Linked DNA regions of Homo sapiens. The protein of the gene in region 1 purifies or fractionates together with the protein of each later gene. This does not show direct contact. Each region holds a gene or a part of one and is shown on either strand. Other genes may lie near its edges.

The links. The genes of interacting proteins can lie anywhere in the genome.
Region 2: the proteins of CCDC82 (region 1) and PKP1 purify together in Homo sapiens (affinity purification with mass spectrometry; 2 studies listed by BioGRID and IntAct, with this or other methods). This does not show direct contact.

The regions. Positions count from the first base shown.
Region 1 is NC_000011.10:96,358,851-96,362,506, forward strand, and holds part of CCDC82 (coiled-coil domain-containing protein 82), read right to left. Parts: intron 329-3,656; coding exon 143-328; intron 1-142.
Region 2 is NC_000001.11:201,314,479-201,318,134, reverse strand, and holds part of PKP1 (plakophilin-1), read right to left. Parts: intron 1,583-3,656; coding exon 1,438-1,582; intron 564-1,437; coding exon 356-563; intron 1-355. UniProt on the Homo sapiens protein: A component of desmosome cell-cell junctions which are required for positive regulation of cellular adhesion.

The DNA of each region.
Region 1 (3,656 bases):
ATGAGCGGAAGAAGAGAAAATACAAACGACAGAAGAAAGAGATTCTCTTAAATTTCACTATCTTTTAATCATTTGTTTCCTTTTGCTGATCATAATTAGCCTTCAGAATCTACATGATAAGATTCTCATATATTCACCTTACCTCCTTAATCCAGCCATTTTCTTTTGACCGCCTGAAAATTCTTTCCACTGTTTCTTTAACTTGTTCATCTTCAACTTCTTCTGTCATTGCAATGGTGCAACATTCCTGGTATAGTTTGAATTTAAAATGTTTCAGTTTATGATAAATTCTGGTACGGCTGGCACAAATTCTGCCAACAGTGAACACCTAAATCAAGAAATAAAGATTGTTATCTGACAACGAATATATATCCTTTCTGGTTTTTGGATTTTCTTTAGTAGTAGAATCAAAATGCATTATTAACTTCCAGTGTTTACACAATGATTCCTTTACCTTCTCTTACTTATACAACTAGTCAAACACTGAGCACCTGTGAGGTTTCAAACATTGGGCTAGGCACTAGAGATATATAAATAAAATACCTATTACCGGTATTAGGGAGCTTACAGTTTTGAGAGAAAGACAAATGGTTACAAAACAACATGAAAAATGGTATGTCCAAGATGCTATGTCCAAAATGCTAGTGAAGAGGGGCACTTAGCCCAATCCAGATAGAACAAAAGTCCCCAAGCAAATCAAGCTTGAACTAAGTCTTGAAAACACAAGAGTTTGCCAAGTTCGGGGGAAAAAAGAGAAATGGCTTTAATGAAAGGCAGAAGGATGGGCAAAGTAAAAAAAAAAAAAAAAAAAAAAAGCATGAAAAGTATGATAAGTCCATATTTATGAAGTTAAAAATGACTGGATTATAATATTTTTCTAGCTATAAGCAACATGTAAAACTGAAACAAACTCTTACACCAAAATTAAGTATTGGCAGTTTTTTACTAGATACTTTTCTTTTCCCCCCCCAAAAAAAATGATCTAAAGTAAAAAAATAAATCTGTGTTTAGGCATACTGATTGCTTTACTTAAGGTGTTATATGTGAATAAGACATTAATATTTTGCTGTCAGCCAGCTATAAGAATTTTAATTCCTACGTTTATATGGACTTCTATAATTCTATGATTAAGAACTCTTTTTATGAAATCAAATAACCAGAACCTTTCTCTTTCAGAATGTTTTGAATGTTTAAAATTTGTTATACAAAACTACAGCTAAAATAGGAAGACAGTCTGACTGCACTGACCAAATTATTTATATATATTTAATATATATTAATATATATTAAATATAGATATTTAAAATATTTACATATTAAAATATTTATTTAAATATATATATATATATTTTTTTTGTTTTTTTTTTCCTGAGATGGAGTTTCGCTTTTTCACCCAGGCTGGAGTGCAGTGGTGCAAGCTTGGCTCACTGCAACCTCTACATTCCGGTTTCCCTGCCTCAGCCTCCCAAGTAGCTGGGATTACAGGTGCCTGTCACCACACGCAGCTAATTTTTTTTTTTTGTATTTTTAGTAGAGACGGGATTTCACCATGTTGGCCATGGTCTCGAACTCCTGACCTCGTGATCTGCCCACCTCGGCCTCCCAAAGTGCTGGGATTATAGGTGTGAGCCACCACGCCCAGCCAATATATTTTTACCTACATCATTTTACCCACTGTAGAAAATGCATCAGAAAGGGCTCCAAACATTATGATATGGTCAATCTTACTCTCATGGAGTAGTAACCTAAGGAAAGAGTAAACTTCCTGCTGACTTAAGTATTTGTGTCTGTACCTAAGTTCACTAATGGGTTATGCTTTCATGAGTACTAGTTTTAATATTTATCTATGCAACTTGTGTTCTGTCTGACAGAAAAATACACTTGTTTCCTGAGGCCACACTGCAAGGAAACATACAAGTGATGATAGACAAAGCAGGAGTATGTTTCCAAAAATGAATAGAAGTTATATCACAATGATTGGCAACAATCAGGTTTGATGTGTTTTCTTGTGAAAACTGTATTTTGGACATTTTGCAACCCTTCTTCAAATCTCCAAAAGTTTAAGAAAAGCATGTTCAGATTTTTGTTCATGGCTCCGTAAAAACCTTCCTGCTTTTCAGATCATTAGAAGTAAACAGGTATTATTGTACATGGCTTATTAAAATTAACTTTTCCAATTCAACCTTATCATCAAAGCAGTCCTGGTAGTAATGACATTTCAGCAATTCACTTGCTAATACTTCCAACTTTGTGTAAAAAGACAACACAAAAGTTGCCGTGACTATAAGGGTACCCTGTGTGTCTCCATTTCTGCCATCAAAGTAGACTGTGTGGGAGAACTCAGCTATAGCTGTTCTACATGAAGTATAGGCATACGATAAAGTGATTTGTATTTCTTTCACATTTATTCTGTATTTCCACAAAACAAGAGGAATTTATCTGTATAGCATTTTTAAGTTGAAACAAGAGGGAAGGAGAGGTGTTTAAAAATCCTAATTTTTTTTCCTGTATGAAAAACAAGTATCCTTTGAAAATATTTAACATTATGGTTTACTTCTTTCCATTTCTAATTCCTACCCCTCTTGGCATCTACTTATCATCATATAGATCTATAAATCAAAAATTACCTTAAAATGTTCTTGTATTTTTTCCCAAAATATGATCACATTTTATATGGAAGAACCTATATGGAAGGGCATCACTGCTGTAAAATTTCACAGAAAACAGTAGATGCAAAGGATAGGTGTAATACTCCAAGTGAACTTAACCCCTCACTCATTCCTGTTTTTAGTGTATTGTTACAGCCCATTGTATTTCTTTATCATATGAATTGAAGTATACAGTACAATACAGCTTACACTGTAGGAATCAATTTGTATAAAATACTAAAACAGGTAACATTAATCTCTGGTGTTAGAATGATTTCTTTAAATGTCCAGAAAAATATATTTAGAACAACTGTAATTATCTAGTTCAATTTCTGTACATTAAGGAAACTATTCTAACAAGAAAATTAGTATAAAAAATACCAGAGAAAAATAGGTGCTGTGGTGAGTGTTCACAAAGCAAATAAAGAAGATGACACATAAATGATGACTGGCCCACTATGCACGGTTAAGCACAGTTATCTGACCTGATAAATATGAGACTGAGTCAGTTCAGTTATCAGTATGAACCAAGTGATCGCACATATGTAAAAATTGGAAATGGAGCTAAAAATTGTCACTGAATTTTGCTAAAGCAGAAGAAAGAATCTCATTTCTAATTTAACAGCTATATCACATGGAGTGTAAATTAAATCTAGATAACAAACTGAGGCAAGGAAATATAATGAAACATGTACCAGGCAGACTTGGTAATATTTAGCTAACTGTAGGTAGCTTTTTGAAGTATTTCTCTAAGCTCTTATTTATAGGCAGAGGAGCCAGCTCCTTATGGAAGTTAAAGTATGAAGAACAAAGAAAAAGGATTCTCAAGGAAACAGTAAGTCTGGGGAAAAGTTTGTTTTCTGTTTCTGGGTCTTCAGAAACAGATAGTACAATACCAATCCAAAGGGTTCTATTTGCCCTTGTTTGGTTTTTTGTTTGTTTTTTGTACAGACATATTATACAATGCCATTTGCCTCAAAAATTATTGCTTCTTCCCACCAAATCCTA
Region 2 (3,656 bases), on another chromosome or scaffold:
GCTTAAGGCCTGTTAACCCCTTCTCCCCTCAGTCTTACTCTCTTTCCATCACCTGGGAATCCCAGGGCTTGTGGAATATGGATCTTGCCTGGACATCAGCCTTCCTCCTTTTGCTCTTTAACCTCAAAAAGATGGTGACCCCTTGTGTGTGCACACCACCCAAGGTCACCCTCTGGACACCCCTAATTGGGCCAAGGCCAGTGTCACTAAACTCTCAGGATATTAGCCCTGGGCCAAATCTGCACAGCTGTGTCTTGGCCCAGCCTGGAGAGACAGGCTTGCACCCCAGCCTGGGGCCATAGCCAGTGGCCTTGCACAGCCCTCAGGCTGGCTCTCGGTGGCCGTGTTGTCCTACCAGTCAGCTGCTTCTGGATCTCGGCGTTCCCGGTTCTCCTCAGGAGGCTGACTGCCTCGCGGATCCCATTCTGCCTCCGGGTCTCCAGCTTGTTGGTGGTGCTCCTGAACACCAGGTTGCGCAGGGCCCCTGCCGCGGCCTGCTGGACGTTCTGGTTGGGGCTGCGGAGGAGGTCCACCAGCTTGCAGATGCCTCCCAGCTGATAGACCTGCCAGGAAAGAGTTGCCACGCTGCCTGGTCAAGGGAGATGAGGCTGATCTAGTTATTCTCTACTCAAAGGTGATTTTTTTTTTCAGACCAAAAAATCTATCAGTTCAGAAATATTCAAGTCAACCAAAATAAATAAGCAGTGTGAGGTCATGATAACTGACCCAGACCCGGAGGCAAAAGACCTGGATTCAGATCCTAGCTCCCATATCCTAGCTCCCATATCCTAGCTGGGAGAACCTCAGCTAGGGTCCCTCCTCTTTCCTGAGTCCTGCTTTCTTCCTCTGGAGAATGATGGTGAGGACCTGATAAGAGAGTGGATGTAAATACATTTCAAAACCCTAAAGCAGAACACAGACATAGAAATGCATACAAACTTATCCGGGACTCTGGGAAACTCATTTTTGACACTACATCCTTGGGCTGAACTGAAGAACCCTGTAGTGTCCTTCCTGCCAGCAAAGCTTTGGAGGCATCAACAGGCCTGTTTTCTACCGTAAGATGCCTGGAGAGAGAAGGGGAGTGGGAGAGAGGAAGCAGGTAGGAGGGCAGGAGTTGAGAGGTGAGGAGCAGTCATGTTCTTTAGTGGGATTTGAGAAAAGGGGTTTCTGTTGAACCCGTGGCTGGCATTGAAGTCTCTTCCATGACCAATGGAGGAATTGTACCTGCCTAATGTCCACTTAAACAGAGGGCTTTGCTCTGCAGAAAGTTAAGATGCCCAGCTCTAACCTTGGGCAATGCGAAGGCTCCTGGCAGCTGGGCAAGGCAAGAGAAGCCAACTGCAGATGCCCTCACCCATCTCTAAAAGCGGAGTCAGGCTGACACACCCAGGCCCTCCGCAGGCCCACCAAGGAGGAAGGTATGCAACCAGCTACCTGTTGCTTGGCAGATTCATCCTGGAAGCAGGTATGCTGGATGTAATAGGCCCCAATGGCCTGGTACTTCTCATCCTGGGAGCTCAGGTACTGCACAGCCTTGGGGATGGTCAGCCCACTGCACTCGATGTCCTCACTGCAGATCCTGTGAAGAATAGGCAGTGGGGGTGGTTACGGGGTGGGCTGGGAGCCCTGCTGAGGGGGCTCAGAATTCCTCCCAGCACACTAAGCTGCCACAGCCTCATCTGCCCTCTGGAGAGCCAGAACAAGGCAGCCCAGGCCCACTTGGAGAATACCCCTGGGAACAGCTCCTCTCCTCCAGAGGAGGGAAGGCTACACCCACTGGATTTGCCCCATGTGAGAATAGTGAGCCCCTGGTCACAGTTAATGTCCTAGCAGGTATGTTATCTCTCCACTGAGGAAAAACTCCTCCCTATTCCCTGAGGGGAAGCTTCCCACCTACCTTGCCATCTCTCTTGTTTGTGTCTGGTATTAGGAAAATGGAAGACAATGGCCATGATCCTATCCATCCATCCATCCATCCATCCGTCCGTCCATCCGTCCGTCCGTCCGTCCATCCGTCCATCCATCTGTCCATCCATCCGTCCGTCTGTCCGTCCATCTGTCCATCCATGCATCCATCCATCCATTTATCCATCCATCTATCCATCCCCAAGTCCAGCTGGCTCTTACACAAAAATGTTCACATCTAGCCTTTCTTCCCATTCTTATAGCCACCAATTTCCTGATCTTGATCACTTTAAAGGCAGCAAGGGACTTCCATATTTGGCTTTCTTCCTCAAGTTCCCCCATCTAAAATTTCATACCCTTTTTACTAGATAAGTGGTTCTAAAACCCAGTTCACTGTGTTGTTCTCTAGCTCAGAAACCATCAGCGGCTTCTCCATACTTCAGGTTCAAGTTTAAACAGCTTAGCCTGATGTCCAAGGGCAGGTATTAGGTTGAATCATAGGAAATGTCTGTAGTCAACCTTTTTTCAGCCATAAAACCAGAAATTTCATATGTTTTAACCTAATAACCCGGCTCCACTATGAACATTCCCCAGCCCCTATCCAGGGTCTGCTCCAGCAAGACTGTCCCCTTCACTGTACCCTGGCCAGGTCTCAGGCATGCCTCAAGGCACACCACTGGCCCTGCTGATGCCCCACATCTGTGAAGCCTTCCTAGGGAAGGGAAACCTCTCTTCTAAGAACCTCTCCAGCTCCCCTGGTGTAGAGTCACAGGGTGGTGACTGGCTGTGTCCAGCATTCAAAGAGGGAGCCCTATCCTTATGCTTTGACATACTTGGTGGTCAATAAATACCCATGGTTTTAGCTATAGCAGCCCAACTTCATTTCTAGGAAAACCACCCGAGGTGCAGAGTTCTCTGGCACTGGGTAAGTAGTACTGCTGCCTGCATTGAGAGAATGTCACCCTGCATTCATCAGTAAAATGTCACCCCAAAATGGCTTGACACTCATCCCTTCCATATCTCACCTAGAACCTCCACTCAGGGCCTCTGGTTGGGACAATGAGCTGAAGCCAGAGGCTGCCCTGATCAGCCTCCAAGACAGAGAGGTTTCTTAGTTCTTCTCCAGATCATCCTAAATACGCCTTACGGCCATCAGGTAGTTCGGAAACGTCTAGCTCTATAACGGGGTTCTGCTTATTTTCAGAACAGTGTGGTACCAGTAGGGAAGAGCACAGGATGGAGAGCCAGCTGTGTGGCCTTGGACAAACTACTTAACATCTCTGTGCCTTGTTTTCTCCTCAGGAATACTCATGCCTGCCTGGTGGCGGGTGTGAGGATTAAAGATGAAGAATGCAAAGCTCCTGAGGCTCTCAGAAAAGGAGTTAATTGTGTAGCTCCAGAACAGCTCTGGGTTGTCCCTATCATGGCTGTGTCTCCCGCACTTGTCAAAGAGCCTGGCATGTAGTAGATGGTCGGCAAACATTTGCCAAATAAATAAATAACAAGAGCAGTAGGTGGTGATGAAGGACAGTTCAAAGGTTCAGGGAGCCCCCAGCCCTGAAGGGCAGGCTCAGTGTCACTCACGACACCTCTGCGTCTATGGCTCCTAACGGGGCACCCCATTTGGTCTCCTTTGTTTCCTCTGGGTGATGGCCTTCCACATGTATGCACAGGAGTTGTGCTCTGTTCTGTAGCAGTAGATCATGAAGCCCCATGAAGTCCCTCAGGGTTTTTGTTGTTGTTGTTGT